2 separate regions of the Homo sapiens genome follow, and region 1 is linked to region 2. Evidence: fine-mapped expression QTL. A gene starts in region 2. The other region holds a variant in brackets. All regions are shown on one strand. Distances are from middle to middle. Region 1 overlaps TBC1D13 (TBC1 domain family member 13). Region 2 holds the start of TBC1D13 (TBC1 domain family member 13).

Evidence for each region. PIP is the estimated chance that this variant, and not a neighbour inherited with it, causes the effect.
Region 1: its variant is fine-mapped to the expression of TBC1D13 in aorta (GTEx, PIP above 0.99).

Annotation. Positions count from the first base shown.
Region 1 is chr9:128,806,476-128,810,475 of GRCh38, forward strand. TBC1D13 (TBC1 domain family member 13) reads left to right here. Exons shown (of 12, transcript NM_018201.5): 12 at 1,339-3,955. The coding sequence ends at 1,404. Among named protein-coding and RNA genes, the nearest start is that of ENDOG, 10 kb to the right of the region's middle. The variant C/CCTT (reference allele first, on the strand shown) is at 1,563.
Region 2 is chr9:128,785,425-128,789,833 of GRCh38, forward strand. TBC1D13 (TBC1 domain family member 13) reads left to right here and starts at 1,829. Exons shown (of 12, transcript NM_018201.5): 1 at 1,829-1,952; 2 at 2,910-2,983. The coding sequence starts at 1,930. RefSeq lists a silencer at 1,477-1,966.

The DNA of each region.
Region 1 (4,000 bases), 21 kb after region 2:
TGGTTCTGCCACTGACCTGGAATGTTGGGTGGCCTTGAGCAAGTGACTTGGCCTTCAAACCGTGTACTCTACGTAGGTGTTCACACCTAGGACACAGCAGGTGCCCAGAACATGGCCGTGCTTGCTGGTGGCCATGCTCAGGCCCGGGGAAGGAGGGTGGGGTGTAGTGATTAAGAACATGGGCTCACCGGGCGCGGTGGCTCATGCCTATAATCCCAGCACTTTGGGAGGCTGGGGTGGGTGGACCACCTGAGGTCTGGAGTTCAAGACCAGCCTGGCCAACATGGCGAAACCCCGTCTCTACTAAAAATACAAAAATTAGCCGGGCTTGGTGGCATGCACCTGTAATTCCCAGCTGCTTGGGAGGCTGAGGTAGGAGAATCACTTTAACTTGGGAGGTGGAGGTTGCAGTGAGCCAAGATCGCATCACTGCACTCCAGCCTGGGGGACAGAGCAAGACTCTGTCTCAGAAAAAAAGAACATGGGCTCAAGGGCCTACAGCTTTAGGTCCACAGTTTTGCTCTGCTGTGCTCATCATGTGACCCAAGCCAAGTTACAGCATCTCTGGGTCTCAGCTTCTTCACCAGCACGTGGCCTTAGTGTTGCTTTGTTGTTGTTTTTTTTTTTTTGAGACAGAGTCTCGCTCTGTTGTCCAGGCTGGAGTGCAGTGGTGCAATCTCGGTTCACTGCAACCTCCACCTCCCAGGTTCAAGTGATTCTCCTGCCTTAGCCTCCCGAGTAGCTGGGATTACAGGTGTGTGCCACCACGTCTGGCTAATTTTTGTACCTTTAGTAGAGACAGGGTTTCACCATCTTGGTCAGGCTGGTCTCGAACTCCTGACCTCAGGTGATCCGCCCACCTCAGCCTCCCAAAGTGCTGAGATTACAGGTGTGAGCCACCAAGCCCAGCCTAGAGTTGCTTTTCCCTAACTTCATGGACCAGATCTGGAAAAAGTGCAGAATCACAGTGGCCACTCACAGGGCTGTTGGGACTTCGCGCTGATGCTCAGACACTGGCCCAGTCCTACTGGCTCCACACGAGGGAGCTCGGGTTCAGTGGCAGTAGTGGGAGAGCTGAGGCAGCACGGTCTGGTCCTGAGGAAAGGGCCGCAAGAGCCTGGGAGTGGTTGTGTTTGGATCGTTGAGTTGGTGCTGCATGGTGTAGCGTCAGCTGCATGCAGGGGTCTGGGGGTTGGGGAGTGTGGGATGCCTGGTGTTCTGTGCTCCTGCCCCTGAGGCCCAGGATCCAGCATGGCAACGGGTCCCAGCAGGGAGGGTGTGGGTGTGGCAGGGGTGAAGTGGCTTCAGAGGCAACTGTTGGCCTTTTCCTGTGCCCAGGACTACCCCATCACAGATGTCTGCCAGATCCTGCAGAAAGCCAAGGAGCTCCAAGACTCAAAGTAGCCCGGCGGCAAGAGGCCCATGTTCCGGAGAGAAGCCTCCCGACCCTGTGCCCTGGCTCCCGGGACACATAGAAACCTGTAGGAACCCAGCCTGAGGGGAAGCCACAGGATCGGCCCGAGACCCAGGCCATGCCCACTGGGGACACACTGTGCCGTGCT[C/CCTT]CTTCTGCCGCCACGCCCAGCTCCCCACCTGCCCTGCACTCTGCCCTCTTTGCCCAGGATACTGAGGAGGGCTGGAGCTCGGGAAGTTGTCCTTCCTGGGCCAGGGCCGTTTCTGGCACTGGGAGGCTGGCAGGGGCCCCTCCCTGCCTCGGCTCTGCCGCCCCAGCCTCAGTTCCTGCTTCTGGTCTTCTCCTGGGCTCCACTCAGGGGAGGTGCTTGGCCAATGGGCCAGAAACCGCTTCTGAGCGGGGCACTTCGGCTGCTCCACAGGGAAGGCGACACTGAAAGCTGAGTCCTGCCGTCTGTCTCACCCACAGATGTCTGTAGTCGGTCGGTGTGAATGTGGGCCCAAGTCCCCAGGCATCTTCTCCGTGTGTGTGTGTGTGTGTGTGTGTGTGTGTGTGTGTGTGTGTGTGTGTTAGGGAGTGAGGGTCTCTCAGGCCTCCAGGTCTCCCAGCCCCTCCTTCTCTGTCTCTACCTCTCTGCCTGTCTCCTTCCACCTCCTTCCCAGAGTGGGACTGTGTCTTGCTTCATGATTCCTCTCTCCATTACTCTCCCTGCCCTTCTCTGTTGGGGTGCCTTATCCTGAGCCACCTCCTCTCCCCGCTTGCCTCTGCTCCCCTGAACCTGGGAGACAGATGAGGAGACTGGCTCAGCAAGGCCCCTGGAGGTCAAGCTTGGCCTTTGCCTCCTGTTCCCATCCCCCAGCCCTGGCTCCTAGGTCCTCCCAACTGGGAGGGAGTCCTCCGTGCCTCACTTAGAGGGTTCTGAACCCGTTCCCTACACAGAAATCTTGGAAACCAAATGCTGCTGAGTAAGGATGAAGCTTTGAGCCTCCTGCCCCTGCTTTCTGCCCAGGGAGGGAGAAGGAAGAGGGGGAGCTGGTTTTTCTGGAGGTTCCCCCAGAGGCCCTCCTGTCCGAAAAGAAAAGGACCTTGATTCTGAGCCCAGGGTCGGAACCCATTGCTTCAGAAGAGTTGTCATTCCCTCGGCTTCCAGGTCCCAACCCAGGGTTGGGTTGAGTGAGTCCCACAAAGGGCAAGTGGGGCCCGAGGAAGCCTCTCTGGGGCCAGGGGTAGCTGAGCTTAAAGGCCCTGGGTCCTGCCAGTTCCAGGAGGGCCATGTCTGTGCCTCTGTGTACCCCTCCACCCGCTGCGGGCTGAGGGAGGTGCAGGGCCTTCTCTGACCCCTGCCTGAGCTGTTCCCAGGGCTGGAGCAGGTGTACCCTGAGCAGGGGCAGCTGGCCACTCCCAGTTCTCACCAAGTCACCTCCCTCCTTGTACAAGGTTTGCGTCCGGAAGCCGGGTGCCATAGTGAGGACCCTCGTCCTCCAGACTGGCTGGCAGGAGTCAGGCCCCAGCAGCCCTCCTGCCCCCAAAGCTTTCCGAGTCTGGTGGGCAGGACTTCTCGCTGCCCTTCCAAGCCCGGCTTTGGGCCAGGAAAGGCTTCCCCAGGTGGCTCTTCTACCAGGCTTTTCCTTTGATGCCGCCTGGATTTCCGCACCTGCCTGTCTCCTCTCCCAGAGCACAGTATTTGGGAGACTTTGACTATTTATTCAGACTCCTGGCTATGTATTGCACATTGGCAAGTGCTCTGGGGATGAGGCATGGGTATAGGAAGGGAGAAAGGAGTTGGAGACAAGATCCTCTTCATTTTCCAAGATCAAAGTCAGCCTCTTCTCCCCATGCTTCTAGGAACTGCCTGGTTTTCGAGCAGGTCCTGGCTGAGCGGGCTCTGAGTTCTGTACTGGAATTGAGTGTAAAGATGGGAAGAGAACTGGGCTGACTCCAGGACCTCCAGGATGAGGCAGAGGCATGATGCTTCCTGCTCACCTGGGCCACCCTCTCTCCAGGACTTGTCAGCTGGTGGTTCAGCCCCTTCTCCAACCCCTTCATAAGCTTGGGCCACTGCCTGGGACCCAGCAGACACTGCCCAGGACTCTTTAGTGCACTCACTCTTGTCTGCCCCCTACCTTCCCTCCTGGAACCACACTACTTGAATCACCATTACTTTGCCTCGCTGGCAGAGTTGGGTCAAGTGCCCTCTCCTTGACCTTGAGATGAAGGTCAAGAGCACAGGGACCAGGCCTTGGTTAGGCTGAGCTCCCAGCAGGACACCGCCTGCAGAAAGGACCTGCCCTGATAATGTCCCTTCCCCAGATTCTCAAGCAGATGCCCAAGGGAGGTCCCCACAGAGCCAGAGTGCCTGAGGCTTCCTGCTTGAGAACCTGCCCCCTGGATCTTGGACACTTACAGATTGAGCTGTATGAATTCAGCGGGTCTCACTCCAGAGGGTCAGAACGTTTGCTTTAGTTTTTTCATCTGTTTTGTTCCTTGAGTCAGTGCTGTTGATGACGAGTTGTCTTGAATAAATCATGTGTTCTTTGCAATGGGCATTGGTGCTGTGATGAGCTGAAACTTTGGAGACCTCAGAACAGG
Region 2 (4,409 bases):
CAGTGAACTGAGATTGCGCCACTGCACTCCAGCCTGGGGTGACAGAGTGAGACCATGTCTCAAAAAAAAGAAAGAAGAGTATATATGCATAGCAAACGTGTGAAGAGATGCTCAACATCATATGTCTTTAGGGAAATGCATGTTAAAGCAGGAGATACCACTTCACATCTACTAGAATGTCTAAGATTAAAAAGACTGACCACATCAAGTATTGGTGAGGACGTGGTACAACAGCAACTCTCATATACTGCTGGGGTAGGTGTTAAATAATACAACCATTTTGGAAAATATTTAAGCACTTTCTTTTCTTTTTCTTTTTCTTTTTTTTTTTTTGAGATAGAGTGTCGCTCTTTCGCCCAGGCTGGAGTGCAGTCGTGCAATCTCCACTCACTGCAAGCTCTGCCTCCCAGGTTCATGCCATTCTCCTGCCTCAGCCTCCCGAGTAGCTGGGACTACAGGCACCCACCACCACGCCCGGCTAATTTTTTTCTTTGTATTTTTTAGTAGAGATGGGGTTTCACCGTGTTAGACAGGATGGTCTCGATCTCCTGACCTCATGATCCGCCCTCCTTGGCCTCCCAAAGTGCTGGGATTACAGGCGTGAGCCACCGCGCCTGGCTAGCTGTTTCTTTCTTTTTTTTTTTTTCTCAAGAAAAAGGTGTTAAATAATACAACCATTTCGGAAAATCTTTAAGCAGTTTCTTTTCTTTTCTTTTCTTTTTTTTTTTTTTTTGACAGGGTCTTGCGTTTTTGCCCAGGTTGGAGTGCGGTGGCGCTATTGGAGTGCGGTGGCACTATCTCGGCTCACTGCAAGCTCCGCCTCCCGGGTTCAAGCAATTCTCCTGCCTCAGCTTCCTGAGTAGCTGGGATTACAGTTGTGCGTCACCACACCCGGCTAATTTTTGTATTTTTAGTAGAGACGAGGTTTCACCATGTTGGTTAGGCTGTTCTCAAATTCCTGACCTGGTGATCTGCCCGCTTCAGCCTCCCAAAGTGCTGGGATTACAGGCGTGAGCCACCACGCCCGGCCTACTCAACTAATTTTTACATCTTTTGTAAAGAAGGTAATCTCGAGGAGCTGGGATTACAGGCGCCTGCCACCACGCCCGGCTAATTTTTGCATTTTTGGTAGAGACGGGGTTTCACCGTGTTGGCCAGAGTGGTCTCCAACTCCTGACCTCAAGTGGTCTGCCTGCCTCGTCCTCCCAAAGCACTGGAATTTACAGGGATGAGCCACCGCGCCCGGTCCAGCCTATTTTTCTTAAGATATCATTTGTGTTTTTTTCTTTCTTCCTAACTTACATTTTATAGGGTTTGCTGGTATAGTTTTTATAAAAAAAAAAAAAGTTGGGCCGCGCACGGCGGTTCATGCGAGTCCCTGCTATACAGGCCTTGAGGATTCTGCAGAGACCAAGATAAGCTGGGGGGCCTGAACAGTTTAGCAGGGGAGGCCGAGACTCCTGTAACAATCATGCAGTAGTTAATTACAGGGGGGTGAGTGCAGGGAAGACGACAGGGTGACAGGTATATTGCGTAAGTAGACACTGAGGCCCAGGGAAGCGCAAGGAATAGTCCAGAGACACACAGTCTGCGCTGTCACCGGCGGGTTCTCAAATTTGGCCCGCAGGGTCGGCGGCGCTGGGGCTCCCGGCCCGCGATTGCCACGCCCACCAGACCCGAGGTTGCCCCGCTCAACCCGGCCGGCCGTAGCCGCCAGTACCGTGTGGAAGCGTGAGAGTCGAGGGGTGGCACGTGACTGGCGGGGCGGGGCGGGGCTGAGGCGGTGGAACGCGCAGGCTAGTGGCTGTGTTTCCCGCCGGAGGCTTTTGCGCAGAGCCCCGCGTCCCTGGGGGGCGGCGGCGGCGGCGGCAGCGCAGGCGGCAGAGGCGCAGGCGGCGGAGGCGGCTGGGGGGTCCGGAAGTCAACACCATGTCAAGTCTGCACAAGAGCCGGTAAGGGGCCATGGGGCCTGACCCGGCTGGGCCACTCCTGGCCAGGCTGCCCCTTCTGCCCCTCAGAAGGGGGAAGCGCGGGTGTGGCCAGGAATCGGCAGACCCCCTCGGCAGAGGGTCTCGAGCGTCCACCTTCTAACCTCATTGCCTGTGGGCTGCAGGAACGACGGAGGGGCGGCCCTTCTCCTGCCCCTGATGTCACTGCTTCTGCCTCCCTCATCCTGGACCCCTGGTGTCCCCCTTCCCCTGAGTCTTCCTCATCCAGACCCCCATGCCCCGCCCCCGTGCCTTTCCCCCTTTTGATCCCCCTGCTCCCGTACTCTCTCCAAGTGCACCCTGTCCCCCGTGCCTTTTTCTTACTAGGATTGCTAGAGAACTTGCATTCTCCAGTCTGGCCCCTCCCCCAGGCCAGATCCTGCAGCATTGGCTGAATTTTGCTCACTCTTCAGTTTTCCTTCAGGACGTGTTTTTTAAACCCTTTGTCCTTGCCTTCTGGCAGGCCCAGAGGTCTTGTAATGGTTATATTTGTGAGCATGGTCCATTGTCTGCATATCAAATTACTCCTGGTTCCTGAGGTCCAAGGAGTTCAGTTGGTGGCTGTGCGTGGACCCGGCCTGGCCGGCAGGAAGTGCCCAGTAAATGTCAGCTCACTAAGTATTAGAATGTTGGAATATGTCTAATTTTATGGTCCTCATTTGGGAACTTCTAGACAAGAATATCTCTCAAGTTTCTTCCCTGGCATTCTGTGTTTCTGGTTGTAGAGGAAGAAGTGAAATATAGTTTTGTTGTTCTCCAAAGCTGTCTTTGGTGAGGACCTTGACTAAGCTGTGTGATTTTTATGTCCTAAAGGGGAGAGAGGCACAGGTTGGAAACTGGCAGTGTGAGGGAGCTGAGGGCTGTGGGTCTCACTGAGCCGATATCAGCATGCTTCATTTGCCGCCCTATCTCCCCTTCCAGAATTGCAGATTTCCAGGATGTCCTGAAGGAGCCCTCAATTGCATTGGAAAAGCTGCGGGAACTCAGCTTTAGTGGTAAGAAGCCATTCTGTATTTTCACGGTTTCCCTACAGCAGCCCTGTGGCTAGAATACAGGGGGAGGCCACACCTGGTCAGCTCTGGGGCCCAGCTGCTGGGGGCTGGGGCCTTGGAAGGAAATTACACACAGACTCTTGGGGCCTTTTCCAGATTCTGTAGAGCTGAACAGGCAGTGACTGCCTTGAGCTTGGAGGGGTTTCCCAGAGGGGCAGTGGCCACACTTAGCATGCCCTAAGCTTTCCTAAGCTTTCCGCAGGAGGTGCCAGATTCCTGAGAGTAACAGGACAGGACTGAAGCCTGGAGAATGAGAGTTGGGACCTTTTGAGCCCAGGACAGTCTTTCCTCATTCCTTAGCTAGCTTCCTGTGTTGGTGAGTTTGGTTAACTGCAGGGTTGTTCCTTGTTCTCTCCCTGGCTTGGGGTCTAAGCTGCCTGAACTAAACCTTGGCTAGTGGTAAAATGGGTAGCCTTGGGACACTGACTTTAAGGAGCTGATCCTGCTGTGTTAGACTTTGCCCCAATGAGCACAAAGATAACTCTCTTTTTGCCTGTTTTAAAAAATATCCCAACGTGTTCTGCATAGCTTCTTGTCACTTTTTTGCCCTTGTAACTTTGCCAGCAAGAACTTCTGGCCGGGTGCCGTGGCTCATGCCTGTAATCCCAACATTTTGGGAGGCCAAGGCAGGTGGATCACCTGAGGTCAGGAGTTCGAGAACAGCCTGGCCAACATGGTGAAACCTAGTCTCTACTAAAAATATAAAAAAGTAGCTGGGCTTGGTGGCACTTGCCTGTAATCCCAGCTACTCGGGAGGCTGAGGCAGGAAAATCACTTGAACCTGGGAATTGCAGTGAGCCGAGATTGCGCCATTGCACTCCAGCCTGGGCGACAAGAGTGAAGCTCCATCTCAAAAAAAAAAAAAAAAAAAAGAACTTCTTATATTGTCCCTGTCATCCTCATATAGATTCTGAAGTGGAGGTATTCACTCATGTTCATGGTACCAGGGATACTACAGCAGCAACTGCGGTAGTGAGCTTCCTGATCTTATTGCAGGATAACTTTGTCTTTCTGTTTAGGAGTGAAATATAGGCCCCAAAGGAGAGGCAGTCAGTGTTAGTAGTTAAGAGTTTTACAGATAAGTTTCCTTCTTACGACAATTACGTTAATCTTCCCTACTTACTGGGGTAATAATGAAGATTAAATGAAATAATATCTGTAAAGCACAAAATACTTAGCATTCGTAGCTTAGTTTATATTCCACAAATATGTATGGAATATCTTCTATGTGCAGTGCTCTGTGCTATGCACTGGGAATAATAGATGTGGTTTTTGTCCTTCTGGGGCTTACCCAGTAGTAGGGGTTACAGACGTTAAGAAAATACACCATATATATATATATATATATAATAATTCCACTTATGACAGA